Homo sapiens: one gene and its partners. The protein of the gene in region 3 binds, or shares a complex with, the protein of the main gene of each other region. Each region holds a gene or a part of one and is shown on either strand. Other genes may lie near its edges. The genes, in order: ITGB6, TGFBR2, TGFB3 and TGFBR1.

Evidence for each region.
Region 1: the proteins of TGFB3 (region 3) and ITGB6 are in contact, whole or in part, in a crystal structure (PDB 4UM9), measured with the Homo sapiens proteins. Residues at the interface, in NP_001316868.1 of Homo sapiens: His259, Gly262, Asp263, Leu264, Arg266, Leu267, Lys268; in NP_000879.2 of Homo sapiens: Ser142, Ala143, Ser144, Asp147, Pro196, Cys197, Ser199, Ile200, Tyr202, Cys204, Ala234, Asn235, Ile236, Asp237, Thr238, Glu240, Asp271, Lys355.
Region 2: the proteins of TGFB3 (region 3) and TGFBR2 are in contact, whole or in part, in a crystal structure (PDB 9B9F), measured with the Homo sapiens proteins. Residues at the interface, in NP_001316868.1 of Homo sapiens: Arg325, Lys331, Trp332, His334, Tyr390, Tyr391, Val392, Gly393, Arg394; in NP_003233.4 of Homo sapiens: Leu50, Phe53, Asp55, Ser72, Ile73, Thr74, Ser75, Ile76, Glu78, Val100, Asp141, Glu142.
Region 4: the proteins of TGFB3 (region 3) and TGFBR1 are in contact, whole or in part, in a crystal structure (PDB 9B9F), measured with the Homo sapiens proteins. Residues at the interface, in NP_001316868.1 of Homo sapiens: Ala301, Leu302, Asp303, Asn305, Tyr306, Tyr350, Leu351, Ser353, Thr357, Thr360, Leu364, Leu368; in NP_004603.1 of Homo sapiens: His39, Leu40, Thr42, Lys43, Phe55, Met70, Ile78, Phe84, Val85, Lys91.

What each region holds. Positions count from the first base shown.
Region 1 is NC_000002.12:160,099,273-160,106,294, forward strand, and holds the end of ITGB6 (integrin beta-6 isoform a precursor), read right to left. Parts: intron 2,563-7,022; coding exon 2,464-2,562; 3' UTR 399-2,463; downstream 1-398. UniProt on the Homo sapiens protein: Integrin alpha-V:beta-6 (ITGAV:ITGB6) is a receptor for fibronectin and cytotactin. It recognizes the sequence R-G-D in its ligands. Internalization of integrin alpha-V/beta-6 via clathrin-mediated endocytosis promotes carcinoma cell invasion.
Region 2 is NC_000003.12:30,665,580-30,672,601, forward strand, and holds part of TGFBR2 (TGF-beta receptor type-2 isoform B precursor), read left to right. Parts: intron 1-6,058; coding exon 6,059-6,858; intron 6,859-7,022. UniProt on the Homo sapiens protein: Transmembrane serine/threonine kinase forming with the TGF-beta type I serine/threonine kinase receptor, TGFBR1, the non-promiscuous receptor for the TGF-beta cytokines TGFB1, TGFB2 and TGFB3.
Region 3 is NC_000014.9:75,978,984-75,986,787, reverse strand, and holds the start of TGFB3 (transforming growth factor beta-3 proprotein isoform 1 preproprotein), read left to right. Parts: upstream 1-4,792; 5' UTR 4,793-5,894; coding exon 5,895-6,246; intron 6,247-7,804. Other genes in the region: IFT43 (intraflagellar transport protein 43 homolog), read right to left, coding at 948-1,001. UniProt on the Homo sapiens protein: Transforming growth factor beta-3 proprotein: Precursor of the Latency-associated peptide (LAP) and Transforming growth factor beta-3 (TGF-beta-3) chains, which constitute the regulatory and active subunit of TGF-beta-3, respectively.
Region 4 is NC_000009.12:99,143,102-99,150,123, forward strand, and holds part of TGFBR1 (TGF-beta receptor type-1 isoform 1 precursor), read left to right. Parts: intron 1-1,630; coding exon 1,631-1,787; intron 1,788-2,395; exon of another isoform or gene 2,396-2,511; intron 2,512-3,383; coding exon 3,384-3,508; intron 3,509-4,552; coding exon 4,553-4,683; intron 4,684-6,078; coding exon 6,079-6,204; 3' UTR 6,205-7,022. UniProt on the Homo sapiens protein: Transmembrane serine/threonine kinase forming with the TGF-beta type II serine/threonine kinase receptor, TGFBR2, the non-promiscuous receptor for the TGF-beta cytokines TGFB1, TGFB2 and TGFB3.

The DNA of each region.
Region 1 (7,022 bases), on a different chromosome or scaffold from region 3:
GCATCAGCCTCCCAAAGTGTTGGGATTACAGGCATGAGCCATCGTGCCCGGCCTTTAATTATCTCTTTAAAGGCTCTATTTCTAAGCACAGTTATAGTCTCAGCTACTGGGGGTTAAGACTTCAATACATGAATTTTGGGGGGACAGGGGCTATTGGGGGTGGAAGGTGATACATTTCAGTTTATAGCACTAACTCTAAAGAACTTGACTTTACAAAATGGTGATGTCCAGGCCCGCTCCCTGCTGTCTCTTGCCTTCTGTGGCTGCCTCCTTTTGCTCTTCTCCTTGGCCCCAGACCAAGACCATCAAGGCAGTCAGAACAGGTCACAGAGGAATCCAGAAATCCAAGAAGAGGGTTTTGTGCCAAGCAAATAAAAGAAACTATCATCCATCTAAGGTTCATTGTTTAAATTACCATGTTTATTTATATCAACACAAAATACAATAATAAACACGACAAAACCATTTTATCTTCATGTAACATAACTCTTCAGTGAACAGAAGTACTACTGTTAATGTTTTGGCCTTTCCAAGGTCCTGCCTGGGGTCAAAACAGTATTCAGAGAAAGAGCAGATTCTTCTCTACCTTCCCTAAAACACACACAAAGGTAACTTCTATTTTCTAAAATCCCATTCCAATAATAATTAAAAAAACAACAGTAAGTCCACGTAGAGGAGAGGATTGCTGTTGTGTTATCAGCATTGCAACCTGTATATTGCTGTAGATTTCCCCCAGGTTCTGCGCATCAGTCAGGAACATAAAGGGTATATCAGCCCTTCGGATTTTCAAGGTGATTTTTCAGTAATTCTTTCACCTAGCCCTGTACTCTGTAAAGGTCTGATTTACCTGAGTTATCTAGAAACCAGCAAAAAAAGAGTCTCCAAGTGATCAAAGGTATATGGATCTATCTTGTAGAATTGAAGAAACTTATAGATTTTGCTGTGACAATTCAATGGACAACCACGAAGCCTCCACTACATAATGAACTATTCACCTAGTAAAAGCTTCACATTACAATTTAATCAAAGGTAATAAACATTGCACAAAAGTACAATATCTCATCTATATGCCAGCAGTTTAAATGCTATTTGTTCAGTCTCGAACATTTTCAAACAAATGACAGTTATCACTTAACTAACACAATCTTTCTATTATTTCACTGACAAAAGAGGCAGTTTCCTGCAGTGGAAAGAGGAGATGGCTTGGAGTTAGAAGAGCTAGATTCTGAACCCAGCTCTACTCATTCTGAGCCTTAGTTTCCTTATGAGGATCAAGTGAGACGAAAGTGCTTTGTAAAGGAGTAATAACCACAAGAAATAATATTCTAGAGTCCATCTCTTCCATCAACTGATGGATCCCTAATTTGCACATGTATTTTGCAAGTAAAATCTTACCTCTTAAAGTAAATATATGATGCATATTCACCACATGCAGCTGAAATGTGCAAGTTGGGTTACATAGATGGGAAAAGAGTATGTATTAAAAAGCCTTTAAGACTTGTATACTCTTGATGTGCTTGATTTAGAGCCATTTAAAATTTTATTGTGTTTAACACATGTTCCTTTTATATTATTGGATCGCTCTTTGAATAAACTAAGCATTTAAAGTAATTTTTTTTTAAAAAGAAACTTTGGTATGACAATTACAGGGTTTAAAAGACTGTGCAACTGAGTGAAATGGATTGAGAAATATGGGAGAAGTAACAGTTTGAAAACTCAGAGTCAAAAAGGAAACAGTGTAGAATATCGTTTTTCAGGTAATTTAAAAATAAGCTATATGATAGGGTTGTTATCTTTTTATTTTTATAGGTAACTTCTTAATTTATAAATTACTTATTCCTTATTTGTAAAACAAATAAAATATTTGTGTACTTAACGTTTAGGTGTGTATAAATTCACAAAAATTATTAACACTTAACTTTCAACCTTATATTTGAGATATCTTCAGAAGAATTGCAACCTTTTAGCTGAAATAAACTCAGAATCTCATTTCTCAGAGATTTAAAAAAAATTCTCCTTTAAGAGAGGGCATATTTCCTACAAGTTTAGAATTAATTGGCAAGTATAGACACACAATGTGAGTATATGGGCTTTGTGACTTTGCCGAGACAAAAAACTCAGGTAGCTGCATTCCTGAAACAAATGAGACTCTAATTTCAAACATTTTTCAAATGCAAATCAGGCCCCCATGAATCATTTGATGATTTTTTGAAGCATTAATGCAACAGAGTTAGTATTCCTCAAATGATCCCCAAAGTCATCTCTTTGCTAAGGATATTTCTCTTCTTGATTATTTTGAAACTGCCAACAGTCTGTCACCTTCATGTAGAGGATGACTTATCTGCAGATGTCCTATTATTATCTTAAACCAACCTCATTTTGAAGCAACAAAGAGAAAAAAATTAAATAGTGCATTAACATTTCATATCAGTGAAACAGACTTTTTTCATGCATAAAGTAGTTCTAGCAATCTGTGGAAAGGTCTACCTTTTGTTTTTCCCTGTGTTTATAAGTTACATTTTTAAAAGTACTTGTGGATCCTCTGTAGAGTGGATTGGTTCCCTGGAAAAAAAAAAAAGATTCAAGTGAAAGTATGTATATTTTGTTTTTATACTGTTTTAATACGTAGTGCAAATTGGAAGAGGAGAGTCAAGCTCAGTCTTGGAAACCATTAGAACAATTTTGATTAATTTGGCATTTCATATGTTTAGTGTTTTGCAATTTATACATTTTCATTTTGTTAAATATACAGAACAAGTCCCATATGTATATTCTAAAAATCTTACCTCTTTTGGTAATGCACAAATTTACGGATAGAAAACAAGGCTTCAGCTGTTGTGCTCACTGCTGTTTTCCCAGCACTGAGTCCCTGGCCCAAAGCAGGTACTCAGTATGTATGGAATGAGTGGCATGAACAGTGACAGATGAACCAAAAGTGAAATCAAAGCCAAAAAAGTAAAAAACAGGAAAAGTGAAACCAGTAGGAACATACAAAAATGAACGACACAGTATCTGCCTTTAACAAACGTGTTACTCATGAGAGGCATCAAAGAAGGGCACAAATAATCATGCTAAGATGAAATCAAAACTCAGAAGTGGGAGAAAGTAGTTGCTTGGGAGGAGTGAGGAACCATCCTCTGGACAGCTAACACTTGCCCTGGGTAGCCAAAGAACCAGCTGTCTTTTGCTTACTATGTACAACACTGTGTAAGACAACCACAAGAGACTGGTATGGAGGACCCTGGGGTCATGAAAGAGTTGCAGTCCAAAGGCAGGCCAGGAAAAATGGCTTTGCCTTGGGGGCAGTGGGAAGGTTGGGTGTGGGACTCTTGGGTAGCTCAGCTGTGCTGTTTGGGTTATAGATGTGCCTCCAGGTGCCAATAGCAGTGGTGCTGTAGCCAAAAGGACCAGAAGGTCCAGAAGGATCAAGCCTCTCTAGTTGTTCCAGGCCGGAGGAAGGTGTCTGGGTAAGGTACAGTTTCTTCTCTCCCACTTTCCAAGGCTGATCACACAGGCTATGGCAACAGTCTGGGTCCAAACCCAGCTCCACCACATGACCGTACTGAAGACACTCTGAGCCTTGGTGTCCCTATCTGTTCCTACCTCGTCCAGGTAAAGTATTTTAGCACTGTGTGTAGCACATAGCAAATGCTCCATAAATGCTGCCTCTTCTCATTAGTTCCTATTTATAGCTTTTCTTCACATTTGGAATTTCCTTTTCTTTTAGGTTTTAGAGAGGATTATTAAGATATTTTCCCCCAGGGCTTTGGTACACTTAACATTTCTAAGCCCATTACTGAGTATGTATGGAATCCAGGTACCGCCTCTGACCTTCTAAGTTAAAATCTTATACTTTGATCACCTCATTCCATGAATTATAGCTATGGTAGAAATTTCTAGGGGTGGATTTGAAAAAAAACCTTAATTGTCTTTGCTTGCTCAGTATATTTCTTTCAGCTCTTAAAAGAATTGAATAAAATCGGAAACACTCCCCGGTCTTTCCCACTCACTGGCCTCAGTGCCCTCATTGTGAGTGGGAATCACACCTGCACCCATTTCTATGTTGTCCAGAGCCAGTGGCCTGACCTCTGACTAAGTGACATGCTACTTTTGTTATGTGCCTTTAAAGAGATATGCTATTTCTATAATAAAGCCAAACAGAAAAATGTTCCTTGGCTGGTGGTGGATGATGGGTGAAAGCTAAGTTGGTATATTGCTTCTATTCCTGAGAGCAGCCTGGTTAATTCTGAGGGACCTCCAGATCTTATCTAGTCTTGCTGCTCTAAGAATTTGAGATTTTGAAGGCAAAGGGCAGACTGATGTGAATTTAGATGTAGATGGAGTCTCATTTGCAAACAAAAATCATGCATGGAATTCTATTAAATTTGAGACTAGAATCTAGTTGGTTACAGGAGAATGAGAGACTCCATTGAAGAAACAAGATGGAAAAAAGTAAGAGGTTCAGGCCAGCAATGACAGGGTAAGCCTGTCCTGGAGGAATTTCCCACTTCCTCCAGGAAGCTCCCACCTTTGTGAACAGAAAAGACACTTGGAAAGAGGACACAGGCTGTGAGCAGGGCCAGCTTAGAGCTCCGTAGGACCAGATACTTGTTTGTAGGTGCACCCTATATCATGTCAAACATACTACAATACACCCATATCCCACACTTAATATAACTGATATGCATTATAGAGGAGGTGACTTGAATTGCAGTTGACAAGATAACACAATGTTATTTAGTAGATATTTAGTTGAATGTTTAATTTTGATGGCAGAGTTTTCATTCCGTATTTTAAAGCAACTTCATTCATTCAGGTTTGCAATATTTTGGGAGTCCCTTGCAATACTGGTTTAGGGCCAAGACATTGCTTATAGGGAGTGATGGGTAAAGCAGACTTCACTAGAGTAAGAGGGTAAGGTGGAAGTGTAAAAGTGGACGAAGAGCAAGTACATATTGCTGTTGTGTGTAATAGGGTATTTCCTGGCCTCAGCTGAAGATCAGAGGTCAGGATAATGCACTCACATTGGGTTTTGTTCCAGGAGGAGGTGTGGAAATGTCCACACTGCCTCCTCTAGTGCTCTGCTGATTGTAACCTCTCTACACAGACTTTCCAGCTGAAATGCAGGCTTGAGTCCTACTCTATTTCGGGTGAGTGTGCAATCCACTGCTCAGAAAAGGTCAGTTTTCCCCTAACCATTTGGGGTTACCAGGCTGATTCCCCCAGGTGTCTGGGAGTGCTAATTTAGGCTGTGGATTCTGCAAATGCAATGACACATTTTTCAAGATTGAAAAAGTGGTAATAGGAAAACTCTGTCATGACCCACAGCTTCCTTAATGATCGCCCAACTGCCAAACACAGACCTGATTTGCTTAGCACAGTACAAAATCAATTCATGACTGCAAGAAATGTCAGGCTGAACATTTTTTTGCCTCAAGTTAATGACTTGTCATCCTAGAAAAAAAATTCTAATCAAAGATGAATTTAAATATGTTTCATTTGTGTTTTCATAAAGAATATGTGGGGGTGGGCATTATTTTTTAAAGCATAATAAAAAAGATAACCTTTCTTTACAGCTGCTCTGAAATGTTTTAGGAGGTAGGAGTGAAGACCTTTCTGTCTTAAGCCCTGTCACTTTATGAGTCCAGTGCAGTCCTATGGCCAGGAGGCCTGACTGTCCCTATTGTCTCTGGAGGGCACTGGGTTTCAAAGACCAGTCAAATTCACTTCTTCAAGAAGAAATAGGTTTTAGGGAAAAAACTCAGTTAAATTGAAGACCCCTAAATGTGTGCAGTGAGCGACATTTTTTTCCAGTAGGATGTTAGTGAAATTTAAACTGAATTATTTGAGTTAAACCTTTTTTGCATCCAAGTGAATAATTACTACCCAGTCATTATCTAGTCAGGAACATCAAACATTTGTTATTCAAAGAAACTCAATTTAATAAGGGAATAATATTTTCCATTTATGCTTTTTTTTCTGTTTAATGCATGTTCGGGTCGCATGTTAGATGAAGAAACAGCAAAAATTCAGCATTTGAATTTCAGTCATGTTCTACATCCTGAGGGAGAACAATTCATGTTTTTGGGGAAATTAACTGTTAATTAAAATGTTATTTTAAAGATATTAATCACTTGTCAGTATTTATGCCTCTGTATGAGAACATTGAAATGTGCTGGTTAGTAGATACACATCACATAATTGCCCAAGTGCGTGTTTGTGGAACACCTGCTTATTATTTCCAGGAGGGTCAACCAAAGGCTGTGCTTAGAAGAACAATGAACAATTAGGCTTCAGCTTAACCATGCACCAAAAGTTAGGGAAGTCCCTTAACTTCTCTGAGCCTTAGTTTAGCTCTTCAAAATGGAAATACCAGGATTATATCATGGGGCTTGCTGCTATTGTCCTTTGTGGCAACTTAACCATATTCTTTTACCTGGTTGCCCTTCTAACCATGGCAAGGCATTTGTTGGAGAGTTGATGAAAGTCAAAAATAACATCTGTGGCCAGGGGTCAGGTGAAGTGAACTGTCCTACAACTTTGGGCTCATTAGTACTGTGTTCTAAGTCACCAAGCTAACCTGTTTACCTTTTACATTGTTAGGGATGAGTAAATTATATCTTCTCCTGAGGAATTTTGCTTAATTATGGAAAATACACACATTCGCAAAAAGAGGAAAGCTATATAACCAACCTCCAAAGACCCATCGCTCAGATTCCACAGTTATCACAGTTCTGCCACACCTGCTTCAACTATCCCTCCATCCCACTCTCTTGGCTGAATTATTTCAAAGTGAACCCCAGCTTTCATTTCCTTTCACTCCTTCAGTATGCATCTCTAAAAAATATGGATATTTTCTAGCAATGTCACCATGCCATTATCATACCTAATCAAATTAACCATACTTATTTGCTATCATTCTAATACCCAGCATGTATTAATCTTTTTTCAGTCTTTTTATGTATTTATTTATTATTTATTTTGGAGACTGGGGCTCACTCTGTCACCTAGGCTGGAATGCA
Region 2 (7,022 bases), on a different chromosome or scaffold from region 3:
GAAGCTCCGACAGCATCCACAGTTGTCCATGTGCAGCACAACAAATCAAGCCAGGCAGATCTCCCATTGGCACTAGTTACCAACTTCCTAGAGAAACCCATCAATCTCAAAATTCCTGCTCTAGCAAGTCCTGGAAAAGAGACTAGAGCCCAAATGCCTTCACTCTGCCAAGGGAGCTTCCCTTTTTGTGTGTCTGTGCCATGGACTTCTTGAAGTAGGGAAGCCTGTGGACCCCTTCTCACTGTGATGTTTTTTAAATGCATAAAATAGAACATGGAGTATTTCAAAGAAAACCAATTACATTGAAATACAATGACCAAATATTTTAAAAATGAATTTGTGTTATAGTAATATATGTTTCTATAATAATGCTTTAAATAACAATAGCAGCAGATCTAAACAATTGAAATGTCTAAATGGTGAGCGTAAGTCACATGCTGAGACGTCTGCAACAACAAACTCATAGGTACAGCTGATACTAGGAAATATTAATTTTTAATTAAAGGTTAGAGAAAATAAAAAAAGATGCAATTTTTGCCCATTCAAATTCACAGACCCACTGAACTCTATTTATGGAACCCAGGCTAAAAATGTTTACTATTATAGCCTCATTTTTTTATGGGCCTTGGATAAATTCCACCCTTATTTTTAATGCCCTTCAGAGCTATATCTGGTTCAATGTTATTACTATTCATGGAAGGTCCCAATAGTGCAACAATTATGTTTTGAGCTCTGCTAAGATCTAGGCCATGAGAATAGGCTCTGAGAAAAGAAAAAGATTTGGGGGTTCTCCTTCACATAAAACTTTTTATTTCCTGGCAGGAAAAAGATGCATATTTACAGAGACACTACTAAACTGTGGTTCTTAGTTCAGAACAAAGGAATATAATCCCCATACCCAAAATATACTCCTTTAGACACATTATACAAGAATTGCCAATGTCAGTCGGTGGATGGCTGTAAAATCACTTAGTCCAGGCTACACTAAAGAAAAACACTTTATCAAATTGGGAGCTTATATAAAGTCATTCTTCCCCTCCCCCGCAACCCCTACCCCCCCATCCCCGCCCGCACAAACACAGGGTCTTGCTCTGTTACCCAGGCTGGAATGCAGTGGCAGGATCATAGTGTGCTGCCGCCTTGAACTCCTGCCTCAAGTAAAGTAATCCTCCTGCCTCAGCCACCGTAATAGCTGGGACTACAGGAAGCACCACAGTGTCTGGCTAATTTTTTTTTTTTTTAAGTTTGTGTAGAGACAGTCTCACTATGTTGCCCAGGCTAGTCTCAAACTCCTAGGCTCAAGTGATTCTCCCGCCAAAGTGCTAGGATTTCAGGTGTGAGCCACCACACCCAGCCTAAGGTCATTGCCATTCTTAGTTGGCTCTCACCAATATGAAGTTTAGAGATCAGGTATGGGGTTGAGATCAGAAGTCTCTCCAATCAGGCAATGCTCATTGTAAATACCAGCTTTGCTGTTGCCTAAATTTATCATCTGGGAAAATTACTTAAACTGTCTGATCTTTAGCTTCCCTATCTGTAAAATGGGGTTTATAATAATAGCAGTTTCTACCTCATAGGGTTTTTCTATCAATTAAATTTAAATATTCTATAAAATCCTTAGCACACAGCCAGGAACTTAGTAAGTGTTCAGTTTATGAGTTTCTCTGTAACTGGCGGCTGATGAAAAGAAGCATTTCCTGTTGGTCTTCGACTAAAGGAGATGCTGGCTTGTACCTACACCAACAGCTGTTGGGTTTTCTAGTAGCAACCCAAGGGTTAATACTGCCAGAGGGTGTGGGTGGCTCCTGTTTAGATAAAGCCACATCCCAAAGCTTCCTTCCAGCCCTGGTTGCTATTGTTAGAGTTTTTCACCACCTCTTTGAAGTTTCAAGATTGACAGATGTTATTCAAGAATTCCTCCCCCTCAAATTTTTTAAGTGTAAGTCTTCTAAAGAAATAACAGGAAATTTTAGGAGAAAGTAAAACTTTGGTTTCTGACATTGAACTGGGGATTTCTAGAATCTTCTTCAGTCAGTGCCACACATAAACTTAAGGGGATTTCTGTTTTTGTGTTTCCTTTAGGCTAAAAAGGAATTGAAATTAGCAAATACGACTGTTTTTATAGATATTTAGGAATTGTAAAATAAAATTATCCATGATGAATCAACATTTCATCTGGACGTTTTAGTGAATTAAGGACAAAGCTAAGTAATTATGCAGTTAATATTTAAATTTTTTCAAATTGTATTTCTCATATGTGAAAAAAAATTGACTACATATTCACATTTGGCCAAAGTGAAGTCTCTCCAGATTCTGCCAATGAGGTTATTAAAATAACACCTCTAGAACAGGGGTCAGCAAAGTTTTTCTGTGAAGGGCCAGATAGTAAATATTTTAGGCTTTCTGGGCCAGATAAGATCTCTGTTGCATGAACCTCTTAGTTTTATTGTTTTTTAAACAACTCTTTAAAAATGGGGATGGAAATCATTCTTAGGTCATAGGACTATACAAAAGCAGGCCATGGACTTCTGAGCCATAGTTTGTCAAACCTTGCTGTAAAATATAAAAAATTTGAGAAGTATCATTCCACGTAAGTAATCATTCAGCTTCTAAAACAAACGTTTGTTGAATACCATAAATTGCCCCATTCTGCCCCAGGTGCTGTGTATATCATGATGATCAAAACAGACCTGGCCACTACCCTGCTTTGTCAGGAGAGAAGCAATCAGATAATCAAGTGGATTTCTGATTATAAGACATTCCATGTAGTTACAGACACAGAGACCGGAGACAAGTGGGTACTTCAAGCAAACACATTCATTGGATACCACATATAATAGAGGTGGAGTTTCAGGCAGGGAGCATTGTGGAAGTGGTAAGCCTAAGTGGAAATGCCGACTGCTGGATCGGCTGTTGTGTTTGAATTTGTGTTGTGTTCATCTGCCCCCTTAATTTTGTTTGCTGTACAACAGGGACAGTCCATACATCTCCACAAGAGCATCTTTTTTTTCTTTTGCATTCAATCATTCTGTAATTGCTTTGTCCCACCCCATTTCTGCCCTACTCTTGCCTGTTCTTTGTCCCAATCCAAGCCTCCCAGTGTAAGAATTTATGTTTTTAAGGATCAATCACCAAATTTTCTCACTTTCCCTATACTTTTAAAATGCATTCATATATCTTTCCAAAAAATGGTGATTTTTTTTTTCCCTCTTGGTTGCTGGAATTCTGATATCTTGGGGTTACTTCTCTGGTTACTAGACCCAAGATTTTCATCTAGAATATATAGTCAGTGGAAGTTGGCATTTCCACTCAGACTTACCTTAAGAACAAGTAATCATATTACACATAAACCTTAAAAATGGATATGTACCAGCTTCATTTCTCACTGTTTCGTTAGATGAAAGTTTCAGATGCTGGGCCAAGCGCAGTGGCTCACGCCTGTAATCCCAGCACTTTTGGAGGCCAAGGCGGGCAGATCACAAGGTCAGGAGTTCAAGACCAGCCTGGCCAACATGGTGAAACCCCGTCTCCACTAAAAATACAAAAAAAAAAAAAAAAAAAAAAAAAAAAAAAGCTGGGCATAGAGGCTAAGGCAGGAGAATGGCTTGAACCCAGGAGGCAAGGTTGCAGTGAGCAGAGATCGTGCCATTGCACTGCTGCCTGGGTAACAGAGCAAGACTCCATCTCGAGAAAAAAAAAAGAAAGTATCAGATGCTGAAGTAGCTATGTAGACTGGGGTATATAACCTGGGGTTCATCATCATGAGCCAGGAAAATTTAGGATATGAACACACATGAGGAGTTTAGGAGTGGAGGTTTAATAGGCAGAAGAGAAGAGAAAGAGAAACAATTCTCTCTGTAGAGAAAGGAGTCTCCAAGCGGAAAGGACGGGCCAGTGGTGAATGTGCTGGATTTTATAGTCCCGTTTGAAGAGGCGGTGTCTGATTTACATAGGGCTCACAGATTGGTTCAATCAGGTATGACGTTTACATAGTGCATGGGGAAGACTGGTCACCCCACCCTAATCTTATTATGCAAATGGGCTTTCCAGTTGATCAGCACCATCTGGTCTGTTCTTTGTTGTACACATGGCTGACAAAGAGAAGGGAAGATGGAGCTGCCATCTTGAACATGTCCTTAGTTCCTGCTGGCATTCACCCGTGCAAGCTCCCAGCTTGCCTGTCTATGTCTGAAGCTCAACTTTACAGGCTGCTCTTTGTTAGAAAATGATTTGGGGCTGCTTTTCATTAAAAAGAAACACCTTACCGAGGACTTCCATACCCTTACTATCTGCCCAAGTAATTTCTTCTTAACTCCTTTATCAGTATCATTTAGGTAATGGGTTCCCCTTGAGAGAATTTGGTTATATCCTCATTCTACCTGGACTATATTCTCATCACTTTTTTTTTTCTCTTTAAACACCTACTGTAGGTGAAAACTGACAAATGAATAATCAAAAGATCCTTTTCTGACACGGAGTTTGGTTCCATACCACCTACCCATTTTTTTCCTTTCTATTCCGCAGGTGCAGAGTGGTCAGTATGGGATAATTGCTCTTCCTTAAGTAGATCATATATTCTTTCTCCTTAACATAGCACTCTTTCCACTCATCACTGACTTTTCCCATTCTTCAGAGACCAACTTAAAGGCAGTTTTTTGCTACTGTGCCTTCCATGTTTCTCTAAGCTTTTCCACATTCCACTAATATATAGATTACATTGTACATTTAGCCCCTATCCCAGATGCCATATATTGCTTACTTGTATATATGCCCTAAGTCCTCTACTGGGTACTCTCTGAGGGCAGTGCCATGCCCATCATAGACACTCAGTAGTGATATATTTAATGAATGATTCTAGGATCTGAGCATGAGGCCTGCTCATTAATGGGTACTTTGGAGGGCAGATGGATGACACATAAAGCAATAGAATTCTGCATGTTTGCCCAATGAAAGCAGCCCAGCACAAGCTCCCAGTGAACTAGAGCTGCCTTTTGCTCTCTCCTGTCCACTGTCTGTTTCTATTCATGTCCTTCTTCCAAAAAGGAAAACTATTTCACCAGAGCCAACAAGGCCAGCACATGAAACAAAGTTTGAGGCACAAGATATTATAGTTAGATATCTGGTGCTAAGGACTCTCCTTGTCAGCCCACAGGGGCCTGCTTCAGAATTCCAAGTCAAAAAACTGCAGCATTTCCATTTTTAACTTGTTTTACCTTTGCGGCCATGTTTCCATTGTTGCTATTAAATATTTCAGTTCCATGAAACTACAATTCGTATGCACACTGAAAAGAGGAATGTTGGGTGGATGTAAGATAACTGTCCAAAGAGATCCTTTCCATGGACTCCTCTCCCTGTCACCCATGGGCCCAGGGTAGCCTGAATGCTGATCAGAGCAGAACAAGTTGGAGTTTGAAAAAGAGCAAAGATTTTGGTGCAAACTGTGGCACGCTCTGTGTTTTTACCAGATGTCATACATGCAGATTTTTTGAAGGCAGAAGCTGTGTCATTTTTTTTCATGTTCCCAATGTCCTGAGCTTAGATAACACTCAGTAAATGGTTTGTCTTTTTATTTGGCAATATTGAGGACCTGCTGTGTGCTAAGTGCAGTTTACAGTAGTGAAGAAGACATGGTACCTTCCAGCATGGAGTTCCCTGTCCGTGGGGGATGGCAAGAGTAGGGAAAGACAGATGTGAAATCAAGAGGTAGAGTCATAGTTCATTTAGTTTAAGTTGTACTGAATTGTTACCTAGGAAAAGTATAAGGTGCTATGAAAATGTATAAAATAAGACAGTTTTCCAAGTTTTTCTAGGCCTCTCTTAAGCAGTGACATTTAAGCTGAAGTTTGAAGGAAGAGCAGGGGATGACGAACAGATGGCCAGAGGCAGGGAAGGCTGAACGAGCATGCACTTGCATCCCTGAAATAAAAATTAACAATATCGTATCTACAAAAACTATGCAGATGCTAAAATCTATAGATGCTCAGGCATGAACCCACTTCCTGACAGTACTTACCTACCACATCCAACTCCTTCTCTCCTTGTTTTGTTTCCCCATCAGAATATAACACCAGCAATCCTGACTTGTTGCTAGTCATATTTCAAGTGACAGGCATCAGCCTCCTGCCACCACTGGGAGTTGCCATATCTGTCATCATCATCTTCTACTGCTACCGCGTTAACCGGCAGCAGAAGCTGAGTTCAACCTGGGAAACCGGCAAGACGCGGAAGCTCATGGAGTTCAGCGAGCACTGTGCCATCATCCTGGAAGATGACCGCTCTGACATCAGCTCCACGTGTGCCAACAACATCAACCACAACACAGAGCTGCTGCCCATTGAGCTGGACACCCTGGTGGGGAAAGGTCGCTTTGCTGAGGTCTATAAGGCCAAGCTGAAGCAGAACACTTCAGAGCAGTTTGAGACAGTGGCAGTCAAGATCTTTCCCTATGAGGAGTATGCCTCTTGGAAGACAGAGAAGGACATCTTCTCAGACATCAATCTGAAGCATGAGAACATACTCCAGTTCCTGACGGCTGAGGAGCGGAAGACGGAGTTGGGGAAACAATACTGGCTGATCACCGCCTTCCACGCCAAGGGCAACCTACAGGAGTACCTGACGCGGCATGTCATCAGCTGGGAGGACCTGCGCAAGCTGGGCAGCTCCCTCGCCCGGGGGATTGCTCACCTCCACAGTGATCACACTCCATGTGGGAGGCCCAAGATGCCCATCGTGCACAGGGACCTCAAGAGCTCCAATATCCTCGTGAAGAACGACCTAACCTGCTGCCTGTGTGACTTTGGGCTTTCCCTGCGTCTGGACCCTACTCTGTCTGTGGATGACCTGGCTAACAGTGGGCAGGTAAGTTAGAGCTAGTGCTAGATCCCCTTTACCTTGAGCCTGGCCTCACCCTACCTCTTGATCCATATCTCCTGGCTCTTATCTCAAACAGCCCTGTACTCTGGACACTGGTCTAGGGAATCTAGCCAAAGTATGGAGTCTGCCTTGAGCATACTCTGCTCTGT
Region 3 (7,804 bases):
AGACTTGCTCTGGGGCCCAATCTTTTAGTAAGTGCGATCCTAACCAGTTTTAAAGATAAAAAGGCCTGATGGGGGTTACAAAGGAGGAAGGTAGACACTGAACTTGGGTCTTGAATCTAGCTCCATTATTTACTAACTATAACGCTGGGTAAACCACAGCCTCATAGGCAGCAGTAGCTAACCTCTTCTGACCTCTTCCGTGATAACATATGCCAAGCACTGAGTTACACGCTTCCCATGTATTGTTGCATTTCCTTTTCACTGTAACACCTCCATTCTAGGCATAAGGAAACCAAGGCTCGGAAAGGTTAAATCGTTTTTTAGGTTTTTTTTTTTTTTTTGAACCCAGGCAACAGCTCTATGCTCCATCTGGCCTCAGTGCCTGAGCACCTAATCACTCCCTCACGTTACAAATCGGTCTTGGTTTCCTTAACTACTGAGGTAACTGAGGTTAACTCCCACCTCCCCACGGGGATTACCGGGAAGAAAGGCCGTCCCTGCCTGCCTCCCTTCCATGCATAAAACAGTGCGGCTTTTGCAGGAACTTCTGCGACGAGGTGTCCCAAAGGAAAAACTCTAGGATGGGAGCGAGTGCGACCCCGGCCGGGGCTCCCCTATCACCCTGTGATCGATCTGTTCTGGGGAAGTTCGCACTCGGGGCTCTAGAAAACGGAGAAAGGCTCGGAAATTTCCCACGGTCCTAGACGCCGGCGGGGACAGGGTGTTTTCTACTTTCTGAGGATTTTAAAGAAAGCAAACCCCAGGCCAGCAGCGGCGGAGCCCACAGTGGCCTGGGGGCGGGGCGGTGAGGCTGCCTCCTTCTGGGCCTCACCCGGCGCGGCGCGAGGCCTGCCGCCCTGAGTCGCCTCAGAGAAGTCGGGGCCGGCGGGGTCGCTCCTCCCCACCCGCCAAATCCTGGCCCCCAAGGCCCCCGAATTGGTCCTCACGGAGGTAGCCAAGCTGTAGCGAAGCTCCTCGTCCAAGTCGAGCAAATCCTCCATCTCCGCGGCCGCCTGACGTCACTTCCTGGAAACCGACTGGCCCAGACGCGTCCCTGCTAACAGCCCCGCCCCTCCACCCCAATTTTTAAAGGGTACGCAGCATGGTTCCTGGATTCTGTGTGCCATCCTCCAAACTACCGAATCTTTCTTAAATCTGCCTTGCTTGACATCTGGAAGCAACCTCCGGTTATTAAAACTCGCCAACGCTGCTCCTGCGAGACGGTAAAATAATTTGGTCGTTAGGAACTGTCTGTATTTGTAGCTCTGTTTAAATATATCAATATATTAAGTGCAAAGCACTACTACTGCTATACTGATGCCTCCCACTTGTACAGCTCTTTGCAAGGTACAGAAGGCCGTCACAGTTATTGGCTTAACGTGAGGGGCATTAACAACCTTGTGTGGGAAGCAAGATAAGTGGTATTGTTTCCATTTGACAGATGAGAAAACAGGGAATCAGGTGTAATAAATGGTTTACCATGAATTATGGAAACTGCAATATACATAATCTCTGCCTTCAAGAAGTTTACAGAGAGGCTGAATCAACACATCAAATAGCTGAGTAGTAATAACTTTCAAAAGTACAAATATTCAATATCTCATTAAATCCCAATAATCCCGCAAAGTGAGTAGCAGTAGTATCTCTAACACAACAATAAAGCACACTGAGGTACAAAGAAGGGGCTTGAGGAAAATCACCTAAGTGCCAAGCAGCAGAGCCAAATGCCCTTCTGACACCAGACATTACTGGAGTATTTATCTCCAGCACATACTACTGGGTGCCAGCCATTCTCCTAGGCTGGCAGAGGGAGATGTACCACAAATTCCCAGCCTAATGGGGCATTTAAGTTGCGTCTTTGTTGACTCTTCATATGAGATCTCCAAGTCAATATCACTGGCCAGGTCCCTGACACTGGTTGGCTGAGATCCATAGGAGATGGGCTGATAGCCCTGAAAGCAAACAACATTCCAGTATTATGTTGAGGGGAAGGCCTGGATGGACACAGGTTAAAAGCAAGGATTCGGAAGTGGGAGTAGCACCCCTGAAACCTCATTGCAAGCATTTCTTAAATATCCAGTAAATCACTCAGTTCAGTCACACATGTTACTGGATAGGACTGTGTGTTAGCATGCCTGTGACAGCAAGAGCACTGGCCTGGATATCAGAAGAGCTGTGTTCTCATCTTAGCTCTCCTGAAAACTACCTGTGTAGTCAGAGCAGAGCCCTTTCCGCTATCAGTTTCCTCCCTTGTAATTACTTTAGAGATTATCTCTAAGATCCTTTGTTAACTTGCTTCTCAGTGAGAATACTTTGTTAGATTTTAATCTGAAGAAACACTCATTGCCAAAAATCCAAGACAGATGAAATATAGGCTCCAATGAATCCCTTGTTCCCTTCTTCTTCGGCACCAGATGAGGAAGAAGGGATTAATCTTTGGATTTTTCCATTTCTTGTAAGCTCACAGCATACGACCATCACCTTATAGTCAGTTTCCAGACCTTCACCCCCACTTCTTCCCCAACTTGCTGAAAACAGAAGGCAAATGGTCCTCACTCTGGGCAGAGAGGTACCCTGCAGTAGTAGCTTCCAGAACTTGCTTAGCACCTGAATCACGTGTGAGGTTTGTAAAGAAACAGAGATGCCAGGGCCTCAGCTCTGGAGACTGATTTGGTAGAGGTGGAGTCCAAAAAAGTATAACTTTAATAATTTTCCTTCCTATCTTGCAACTGTCTGCTCAAAGGCCTTCCCTTATCACCCTATTTGAAACTGCAACATCCCCCAACCTAGGCACACCCCATCCTCCTTCCCTGCTTGATTTTCTGCCACACCACATTTGTTTGTTTGCTTGTCTGTTTGAGACACGGTCTTGCTCTGTCGTCCAGGCTGGAGTGCAGTGGTGCAATCTTGGCCCCCTGTAAACTCTGCCTCCCTGGCTCAAGTGATTATCCTGCCTCAGCCTCCCAAGTAGATGCCTGCGCCAACATGCCGGGCTAATTTTTCCATTTTTTTGTAGAGACTGGGTTTCGCCGTGTTGCTGGGGCTGGTCTCGAATTCCTGAGCTCAAGTAATCCTCCTGCATGGGCCTCCCCAAATGCTGGGATTACAGGCGTGAGCCACTGCACCTGGCTCAGCACTTTTTACCGTACTACATCATTTACATATTTATTTAGTTTATCGCCTCCTCCACTGCCCCACCCCTGCCTCTAAAATAAAATTTCCCTGAGGGCAGGAGTTTTGTTTCGTTCACTGATATTCTTCACAGAGCCTAGAATAGTGCCTGGTATATAGTAAACATTAAACTTTTTCTGAAATTTCAGAGGCAGTATAGCATAGTAATTAAGTCCAGAATCTGGCAACGTCCTGGGTCCAAATCCCAACAGCTGACACCTAATAACTATGTGACCTTGGGCAAGTTACTTTTAAAGTTTCTACCCCTAGGTTTCCCATTGGTTTTGCAAATGAAAGTAATGCCTACCCAAGCTAGATAGCCTGTGTAAAATATCGCCTCCATCACTCACAAGCAGTGTGGTCTGTAAAAAAAAAAACAAAAAACTCTATGCCTCAGTTTCCTCATCCGTAAAGTGACCCACCGCTGTGCTGGGATACAGAGAACAGCCCCTTCAGTTAGTGGCCTGGAAGCCAGACCTCTCAGAAAGGGTCCAGGAAGGCTGGAGTGAGATGGGGTGGGAGCGGCACTCACTCTCAGGAAAGTTCAGTTCAGAGGCAAGCCCTGTGTTGCGGGGTGCGGGGAGCCACGTGCCCTACCCTCCCTTGGCTGCTCGTGGGAAAAGGCCTAGAGGTTCGGGCCGAGAAGAGGAGCGAAAGCACAGAGCCGACTTCCCCTCACCCATCTGGGAAATGGGCTCGGGCCAACTGCTGACTTCGCGCTCGCTGGCGCAGCTCCCTGCGGAGACCTCGGCGGGGAGGGAGGCTGAACATCTGGATGACATTTCTGCGAGAGCGGCTCCGGAGCGGCGGTCGGGGAGGGAGAGGTGCGCTCGTGCGCACGTCGGGCCGGGAGGGAGGCGATTCCTCGGGGCCTGGGTCTTGTTTTTCTCGCTCTCTACCGCAGCCCCTTCTCCCGCCCCTCAGCCCCCACCCCGCAGCCCCCAGCCCCCGAGCCTCCCCGGCTCCCGACCAGCCGAGCTCCTTCACTGGCGGCCTCGCCTCGCCAGAGGGCACCCTCGATCTTCCGGAAAACGCCACCATTTTTCACTGCCCCTGGAGCGTCTCCAGGCTTCTGCCCGCCTCCCGACTCCGATCTTGTCAATGAAGAATCGGGCCAGGATCGCCGCGGAGCGGACGCCGACCCTCCGACCCGGCTCGCAGGCTGGGAGTCCCCTCTGCGAGGCTGGCATGGCCGCCCCTACCGGGTCCCGCGCCCTCTGCGGACCCTGCCCCGGGTTGGGCCTGGCCCGCGGGCGGCCCCGGGACCGGGGGACCAGGAGGGAGAGTAGACGCGGGCCGCGGACGGCGCGGACTGACAGCTGGCGAGAGGGCGCCGGGGCTGGGGGAAAGGGAGGGAGGGGGCTCATCGGAGTAACTTTCCAGAAAAACAGCCAACGTGTGGCAGGAGTGATTCCAAGAGGGGAAAAAAAGTTCAGCTACCACGTCGAACGAGAGGACTCGCAAAGTATTTTTCAAAAGGGCTCGGCTTTTCCTGTGCCTGTTTAAAACATTAACATCGTGCAGCAAAAGAGGCTGCGTGCGCTGGTCCCTCCCTCCCCCACCCCAGGCCAGAGACGTCATGGGAGGGAGGTATAAAATTTCAGCAGAGAGAAATAGAGAAAGCAGTGTGTGTGCATGTGTGTGTGTGTGAGAGAGAGAGGGAGAGGAGCGAGAGGGAGAGGGAGAGGGAGAGAGAGAAAGGGAGGGAAGCAGAGAGTCAAGTCCAAGGGAATGAGCGAGAGAGGCAGAGACAGGGGAAGAGGCGTGCGAGAGAAGGAATAACAGCTTTCCGGAGCAGGCGTGCCGTGAACTGGCTTCTATTTTATTTTATTTTTTTCTCCTTTTTATTTTTTAAAGAGAAGCAGGGGACAGAAGCAATGGCCGAGGCAGAAGACAAGCCGAGGTGCTGGTGACCCTGGGCGTCTGAGTGGATGATTGGGGCTGCTGCGCTCAGAGGCCTGCCTCCCTGCCTTCCAATGCATATAACCCCACACCCCAGCCAATGAAGACGAGAGGCAGCGTGAACAAAGTCATTTAGAAAGCCCCCGAGGAAGTGTAAACAAAAGAGAAAGCATGAATGGAGTGCCTGAGAGACAAGTGTGTCCTGTACTGCCCCCACCTTTAGCTGGGCCAGCAACTGCCCGGCCCTGCTTCTCCCCACCTACTCACTGGTGATCTTTTTTTTTTTACTTTTTTTTCCCTTTTCTTTTCCATTCTCTTTTCTTATTTTCTTTCAAGGCAAGGCAAGGATTTTGATTTTGGGACCCAGCCATGGTCCTTCTGCTTCTTCTTTAAAATACCCACTTTCTCCCCATCGCCAAGCGGCGTTTGGCAATATCAGATATCCACTCTATTTATTTTTACCTAAGGAAAAACTCCAGCTCCCTTCCCACTCCCAGCTGCCTTGCCACCCCTCCCAGCCCTCTGCTTGCCCTCCACCTGGCCTGCTGGGAGTCAGAGCCCAGCAAAACCTGTTTAGACACATGGACAAGAATCCCAGCGCTACAAGGCACACAGTCCGCTTCTTCGTCCTCAGGGTTGCCAGCGCTTCCTGGAAGTCCTGAAGCTCTCGCAGTGCAGTGAGTTCATGCACCTTCTTGCCAAGCCTCAGTCTTTGGGATCTGGGGAGGCCGCCTGGTTTTCCTCCCTCCTTCTGCACGTCTGCTGGGGTCTCTTCCTCTCCAGGCCTTGCCGTCCCCCTGGCCTCTCTTCCCAGCTCACACATGAAGATGCACTTGCAAAGGGCTCTGGTGGTCCTGGCCCTGCTGAACTTTGCCACGGTCAGCCTCTCTCTGTCCACTTGCACCACCTTGGACTTCGGCCACATCAAGAAGAAGAGGGTGGAAGCCATTAGGGGACAGATCTTGAGCAAGCTCAGGCTCACCAGCCCCCCTGAGCCAACGGTGATGACCCACGTCCCCTATCAGGTCCTGGCCCTTTACAACAGCACCCGGGAGCTGCTGGAGGAGATGCATGGGGAGAGGGAGGAAGGCTGCACCCAGGAAAACACCGAGTCGGAATACTATGCCAAAGAAATCCATAAATTCGACATGATCCAGGGGCTGGCGGAGCACAGTAAGTCCAAATTCTCGCTGGGGTGTCTGCTCTGGAGGGTCTGAACTGGAGCTGGGAGCTCTGCAGAGGGGGGCCTAGTGCTGGCCACACAGCAGGGTGCCCCAGGATTCACCAGCACCAAGGCTCAGGATGTGCGATGCTCCTCCGTTGGGGCTGGGGAGGTGGGTGGGGAAGGAGATAGAGCCATTCTGTTAAGAGCCGGCGCTTCTGGGAGGCCAGGAGCCCTGGAGCTGAGTGGCTTGCTGAATTCACATCACATCCTTGACTGATTTTAATTTGGAATTACATTGTGCTGTCCAGGGAAACATATGTATTCTTGCACATGCGATCGTATCAGTAACTGTAAGCATCTGGGTGCCATAAAGGGGAAGGCCGGCTCTGTCAGGAGCCCTTACGGTTCTCAGTGTGGAGACCTCATCTTCTCCCTGCTTTTCACAACTCATTGTGACACGTCTCCGTTTCAGTTTTTCCAGTTCTTGGGAAGAAGAATACCTGCCCCAAATTAATGTCTGTCAAGCTTTTTGAAGCCCAGGCAGGAGACAGCTTCTTGCTGCCTGGGCCCTTTGGTCTACCCCACCCACGTGACCCACGAGACCCACGTGAGCTGTGTGTGTGGAAGGAAGAGGGTATGCACGAATGTTCCCAGGGCCGTGTACTTTAGGGTGACATGCAGTCTTGTGCAGTAGACAGATTCATGTGCTCAAAATGGGCGCCCTCCAGGCCGGTGGGCACGGGGAGAGCGGGTTTTGGCTGTGGATGCGTAGAGGAGGCTGGCGCCCTTTGTGTCTGCGTGTCACGGGAGAGCGGGTGGAGGGGTGGCAGTGGGTGCATGGTGGGGGGGGGGGATATGTCTGGGAGCCTGCCGTCCCAGGAGGCTCTGTCTGCATGGAGGAGCCGGGCGGCTTCTGGGCGAGATGTCTGTGTGTGTTGGTACACGTGTGGAAGTCATATGTGTTTACTGAAGGGGATTTTAAAAACCTCAATACAAGAGAGAGAAATTTGGCAGATGTTGAGAAACTGACAGCCCAGGAAAGAGGAATGTGAGCCACTCGTGGGCCGTAGACTCCGGGAGCAGCTCTGTTTGCTTTTCCTACCAGCAGGTGTCCTCGCCGCCCTGACTACCTCAGCCCAGGCCCACCTGGGAGGTGGGCAGCTCCTGGAGTGGGGTGGAGGGCATGGGATGGAGCTGGCAGGCAGGGGAGGGTGGTCAGCAGAGCACACAGCAAGGGGTGAAAGGAACCTGGCTGGAGAGAAGGAACAGGAGTGGGTACCGATGGGTGGACCAGCTCTGGCTGGAGGTGCAAAGGCCCCGTTCACGGCTCCACGCCAGGCAGAGGAGCCTGTGGTTACTGGCGAGGGGTTCCCGCTCCAGCTTCCTGTGGCTGCCTGGAGCGCCTTTCTTCAGGATGTGGCTGCCATGTGGGGCGGAGGCTGGAGGCCGATGCAGAGCTACTACTCCCTGCCCAGGGTCTCTGGGTGGGGCTGGCTCAGAGACCCACAGTTCCCAGAGGCACCTAGCAGCTCGATGGCCAAGGCTCCAACTCCCTGGGAACCCACC
Region 4 (7,022 bases), on a different chromosome or scaffold from region 3:
GATATTTAAAACAAATTTTTTAGATGAGAACATTTTATCTTTCAGTTCAAAATTTCAGGTAGAGCTAGGAATCTGGAAATTTGTTTAGAGATTCTCTAGTCGTTGTAACAAAACTGTGATTTTTTTTGAGTTCTTAAAAGTAGCATTCAATCTTATGATTTTTGAGGATCTCAGTTTCAGAATTCAGGTCCAACTGAATATATTTTTATGTGTAGTATCAAATGAAATGTGAAAGTGCTTTGTAAACATCAACATGCTAGGTAACTGTTATCTGGCCATCTAATAATTATATTTGACCTTGAGATAAGGAGACTGCATGAGATAGTTTTACAGTTGAAAAATTAAATACTAAGTTTTAGTTATGACATTTGTATGCTGTAGTTTTTGTGCATGTGGGATTTCAGATGCCAGTATATCTCTCTGCTCTAGCAGTTGTCCACTTGCAACCCAATGGCTCCCCCACTCCCCACTTTACATACAGCATAAGTGCTAGTTCACATCTTAGCTCCATCTTTGTAGTTATTATTATTATTGATTGTAACAGTTTTATTGAGTTATAATTCACATCATAAAGTTCACCCACTTAAAGTGTAAAATTCAGTGGTTTTTAGAATACTCAGAGTTGTACAGCCAGCAAACACTACAGTCAATTTTAGAATATCTTCACTCCAAAGAGAAACCCTGTAGCCACTAGCAGTCACTCCCCTTTCCTCCCAAACTCCTTAGCCCTAGGCAACAACTGCTCCTTTTTGTCTGTAGATTTGCTTATTCTGCACATTTTATATAAATGAATCATACAATATGTGGTCTTTTGTGACTGGCTTCTTTCACTTAGCATGTTTTCAAGGTTCATTTATGTTGTAGCACGTATGAGTACTTCAGTCATTTTGATGGCTAAGTAATACTTCAGTGTATGGATATGGCATATGTCATATATCCGTTCGTTGATGGACATTTGGTTTGTTTCTTTTGGCCATTGTAGCTAATGCTGCAGTGAACATTTGTGTACAAGTTGTATGTAGTTTCATGTTTTCAGTTATCTTGGGTATATACCTAGGAGTTGAATTACTGTATCATATGATAACTCTATTTAATGGTTTGAAGAACTGCCATACTATTTTCTTAAAGTGCCTGAACCATTTTACATTCCTGCCAGCAGTGTATGAAGGTTCCAGGTTTTCCACATTATAATTATTATTTTTTAATAACATTTTCTAGTGGTTAGCATCAAAGATAATATACTTAATACTGAGTACATTGCAGTTGATAGGGAAGTGATGTTCTACATGCTTGGTTCCTGGGCTGCTGGAATATCAGTCTATGGCTAAGTTTCTTAAAAAGAATTCATAAGGCACCAACAGATAAACTGATAACTTTTTTTTTGCCCCAGTCTTTGAGTTGTTCATCTTTTAAAGCATGTTATTGTCCACATTTTCTTTAAAGAAATATAAATTCAGTGACTTTTGGTGTAGTGATTCACTTGAGTTTAATAATGCCGTAAGTATTGTAGGTCATGTGGGCTGAAATGCTTTGATAATTTGGGTTGGGAGAAGAGACTTTTGAACCTAAAGATGTGAGTTGTGATTGGTATTACCTTTTAAGCAGTCATGTTTAATTTTTGATTCTTTAGGAAAGCCAGCCATTGCTCATAGAGATTTGAAATCAAAGAATATCTTGGTAAAGAAGAATGGAACTTGCTGTATTGCAGACTTAGGACTGGCAGTAAGACATGATTCAGCCACAGATACCATTGATATTGCTCCAAACCACAGAGTGGGAACAAAAAGGTATACTTTTGAACAACTATATTTAATATCTTCTGAAATCACCTTTTTTCCCTTCTCTTTCATATATACATATCATTGCTGAAACTCAGCTTAAACTTGCACTTTATTAGATTGCCAACAGGTAAGAAGATCTCATGGTCTTGCCTGCTCTGAAGCCAGAGTTACCTGACTTAAAAAGATGCCTGCTGATGAAAGGTTGCCCTTCCAGAAAATATCATTAGGCATGTTAATTATAATAACAGTAGTAACTAACGTTTATAGGGCACCTACTATGTGCCAATCGTCTAATAGGTCTTTTACGTATATTACCTCATTTAATCCCTTCTCAAATACTGTGCAGTAGCTAGCCCTGCTATTTTCATATTTCAGTTCCTAAAAATATGCCTTTCTTGCTTTCTTAGAACTTTTGCACATGCTGTCTCCTGGAGCATACTTTACCCTACTGTTTCTCAGCCTCATACCCACCTTTCCCGTAGGAAGTTTTTTCTAGTCCTCAAAAATCTTAGGAGTCCCTGCCAGGGACTGTCATAGCACACTGAACTGGGACCGTTGAGGCACTTATGCGTTATGTTGTAACTGTTTATTTATTTGCCTATATATTCTATTAGGTGCAAGCTGCTTGAGAGCAGCCTTGTATTCCCAGCATCCATCACAGTGCCTAATACATGGTAGATCCTCAGTAGATATTTGTTGAGTCCATGAGTCTTCAAAAGAACTTAATTAGGTAGGTGTTATTACCCTTTAATTCACAGATGAGGAAACCACCTTGAGGAGGTTAAATAATATGGCCAGCTTCATGTGGATGATAAGCCGAAGAGCTGAGATTTGAACCTGGGCATTTCTGACCCAAACCCCTTATCACAAGCTGTCACAGCATTTTTTCAAACTACTGTCTTGGCCTTGGAGACAGCTGGAGAGCCAGCAGCATTAGTCTATTCAAATTGCATGTATAATTTTGAGATTTCTGGATTCCCTGGGGACTCTCAATTTTCCCATCCAAGTACTAAGCAGGCCCGACCCTGCTTAGCTTCCAAGATCAGACGAGATCGGGCGTGTTTAGGGTGGTATGGCCGTAGATGACTCTCAATTCTCAACCAGCTAAGGGGTCCTTGTCAGTGGTTGCTGTAGGTCTCTGTGGGTCCTGACCCATAATTTTGGTAGGTTTTTGAAGCTTCAGTATGAGGACTGGCATTCTTTTGTATCTATTATTTTTTTCCCTGGAGTATATTCGTGCCCTTCCTTTCATCCTCAGTGAGAAGACTTCTAAATTAAAATGCATGGTTTCTACCTAGTACGTGTATAGGTGGTGTACATTAGGACACCTTTAACAGTCACAATTGTTATGTATGTCTTTCATTGGAAACCAAGATCATGAGGCAGATAGTGTGAAACTGCTATTTTAGCATTTTGTGGGATTTAGTTGACATCATTAATGTGCAAACCAGTGTGGATATTTAATATTTTTCTTGAGTCTAATATTTGTTATGTAATATTGTGTACATATGTCTATGTATAAAGAAATGTCTGAAAGGAGGTTCATCCAAATATGGCAGTAAGGGGATGATTTTCAAAGTTCTTTTTGCAAATTTTTTTTAGGTACATGGCCCCTGAAGTTCTCGATGATTCCATAAATATGAAACATTTTGAATCCTTCAAACGTGCTGACATCTATGCAATGGGCTTAGTATTCTGGGAAATTGCTCGACGATGTTCCATTGGTGGTAAATTGCTCTCCTCTCCCCCAGTAGTTTGTCATGAGCAGAAGTTGTTCAAGAATTGTCTTCTTTTTTTAATTGAATGAAATTATGTACAGTCCATTATCTGAAACAGGATGTCACCGAGTGCCAGAGAAAACAAAGGCGATGAAACCTTTGGGAGGGGACAGTGCCATGGTGTGCACATGCACAGCTCTAGCCTAGTGTATTCTCTTCCTGTTTCCATTTGAATCTGGAGACTCATCAGAACCCAACCCCTTGTTATATTGGAATATAGTTCTTTAGAATGGACAGCTGCTTGAGAGGCTCACCTAGGAAGCTGTTTCTAGCATGTACCTGGGTGTCAAACTTATTTTTTTTCTTTGAGATTGTGGTTATTTTCTCCAACTTGATAGTTACAGTTACATACACAGAATACAATTATGTTACCATTGTGTTGTATTCTAGAGTTAGTTTGTTTTAACTTCTAGCTTTTTAGATGGAGTACTTTTAATGTTTACTCAGGAAACAGTCTCTTAGGCTTGGGGACCTAGACTTGGCTGAGACCTAGTGCCTTAGGTTTTTGAAGCAGTGAGGGACAGAGTATTTCTCTGTATTGTAGTAAATAGGATATATTATTGACAGATGCAAGTAGAGAAAGGGACTTGGCACCTTAAACTTGCCTCATAAGATTCAAGTCTCACTGATAGGGTATATATATCCCTGTGCAAGTGAGAGCCTGTGCACTTACAGAATAGAATCTCATTTGCTGCACAATAGGGTTCTAGGGGAAAATGTCAATCTGGTCATCACAGCTCATAGTTTACTGTCATTTCAAATAGGCTTTATTGATCTCATGGCAATACTTAGTTTCAAGGTGTGGGTGGAATATCAACTCAGGGAAGTGGCTTGTGGATACAGATGTGGATGAGATAGAGAAAGCTGTAATCTCTGTTCCACATACCTACTTTAGTAATGAAACACTGTAATAGGTCTCTCAGGTGATCTTTTAATGCCTTGGCATTAGCTGAATAAATTCATCAAAATTTAATTTTTTTTAAACTGATACAGGAATTCATGAAGATTACCAACTGCCTTATTATGATCTTGTACCTTCTGACCCATCAGTTGAAGAAATGAGAAAAGTTGTTTGTGAACAGAAGTTAAGGCCAAATATCCCAAACAGATGGCAGAGCTGTGAAGTGAGTATTTCTTTTTGATATTAGGCAATTTTCTAAACTGCTTCTGCTTAGTAAGCAAAAGTTTGCTACTTTTCTTTAAGGAAAACTTTTCTTTAAGAATTTTCTTTTTCATAGCAGTCAAACCAATGTTTAAAAACAGAATAATTTGGTTTTCATATTCAATTGTAAGCACATTGAAAGGGCCATGGAACATTTGCAGTGGCCTTTAGTGTATCAGAACATAGTTTAGATCTGCCGGGCGAACTAAGGCACATATTTTTAAATGAATGCCTCCCTTCAGCCGGGGCAACCCAGAACACTAGACAGTTACCGGACATGAATGAGGAGCCCTGTATTCTAGACCAGCCTGGCTACCATTTCAAGGGTCTGACTCTGAACAAATCCCTTTAGTTCTCTGGACTTTAATATCCCTTTGCAAGGTGAGGAACTCAGATAAGGTGATTACAAAGGTGTTTCAAATGATTTTCCGTTTTATTCATCTGATTGCCCAGATAACCGTTAACCAGGAATTTAGGGAAAATGCTTTTTTCCAGCAGTATCTGAGCTGCTCAACTTCAGCTCTAACAAAAAGTTTTAGAAACGTTTTTGTAATTGTAAATTTAAAGATTCGTAAGATGAATTTTATTTAACCTCTCCTTAATTGCTAGCTGTTACTATTACAATATTGGTGAAGCAGAGCATATTCCTCCAGGTTTGAAGATTTGTAGCTTAAAAAGGCTATAAAAAGCTGTTCAGTTCAGTAGTTGATTTTACGTCTTAAACTATTGTAGGACTCAGCAGAACCTCTGATAAGCAAGAGAGCTTGCTACCTCCAACAAAATCACATCTCCAGGCCCAAATAAATAAAATGTATTTCAGCATGCTTAAGGAATTTGCATGTGACATAGTTTAATAAATGAGAGTGCTGCTAGATTTTGTCTTTTAGAAATTTGATCTACTTGGGAGGCTGAAGTGGGAGGATTGCTGGAGCCTGGGAGGTCAAGGCTGCAGTGAGCTGAGGGCATGCCATTGCATTCCACTTTGGGCGGCAGAGTGAGACCCTGTCTCAAAAAAAAAAAAAAGAAAGAAAAATTTGATGTGAATACTTCAAAGTACAAACTTAAAATTTCAGTGTGAGGTCAGATTTCTTCTTTGCTTTGCCCAGCTCTGGTTTAGGATTCGGCCTTTTCAGGTTTGCTAAATGAGTCACTCTTTGTCCACCTGCTTTCCAGCACTGGCACCAGTACCCTATTGATGGAAATTTATGTAATTTCTACTCATTTGCTATTACAAATAATGCTTAAACAATAACAAGTGTATATGTCATTTAAAAAGAAAATTTACACGTAAAAATTCTTATCCAGACCAATGGAAAATGGTGCATGCATTAATTTTTTTTTTTATATTTTCTTGTAGGCCTTGAGAGTAATGGCTAAAATTATGAGAGAATGTTGGTATGCCAATGGAGCAGCTAGGCTTACAGCATTGCGGATTAAGAAAACATTATCGCAACTCAGTCAACAGGAAGGCATCAAAATGTAATTCTACAGCTTTGCCTGAACTCTCCTTTTTTCTTCAGATCTGCTCCTGGGTTTTAATTTGGGAGGTCAATTGTTCTACCTCACTGAGAGGGAACAGAAGGATATTGCTTCCTTTTGCAGCAGTGTAATAAAGTCAATTAAAAACTTCCCAGGATTTCTTTGGACCCAGGAAACAGCCATGTGGGTCCTTTCTGTGCACTATGAACGCTTCTTTCCCAGGACAGAAAATGTGTAGTCTACCTTTATTTTTTATTAACAAAACTTGTTTTTTAAAAAGATGATTGCTGGTCTTAACTTTAGGTAACTCTGCTGTGCTGGAGATCATCTTTAAGGGCAAAGGAGTTGGATTGCTGAATTACAATGAAACATGTCTTATTACTAAAGAAAGTGATTTACTCCTGGTTAGTACATTCTCAGAGGATTCTGAACCACTAGAGTTTCCTTGATTCAGACTTTGAATGTACTGTTCTATAGTTTTTCAGGATCTTAAAACTAACACTTATAAAACTCTTATCTTGAGTCTAAAAATGACCTCATATAGTAGTGAGGAACATAATTCATGCAATTGTATTTTGTATACTATTATTGTTCTTTCACTTATTCAGAACATTACATGCCTTCAAAATGGGATTGTACTATACCAGTAAGTGCCACTTCTGTGTCTTTCTAATGGAAATGAGTAGAATTGCTGAAAGTCTCTATGTTAAAACCTATAGTGTTTGAATTCAAAAAGCTTATTTATCTGGGTAACCCAAACTTTTTCTGTTTTGTTTTTGGAAGGGTTTTTGTGGTATGTCATTTGGTATTCTATTCTGAAAA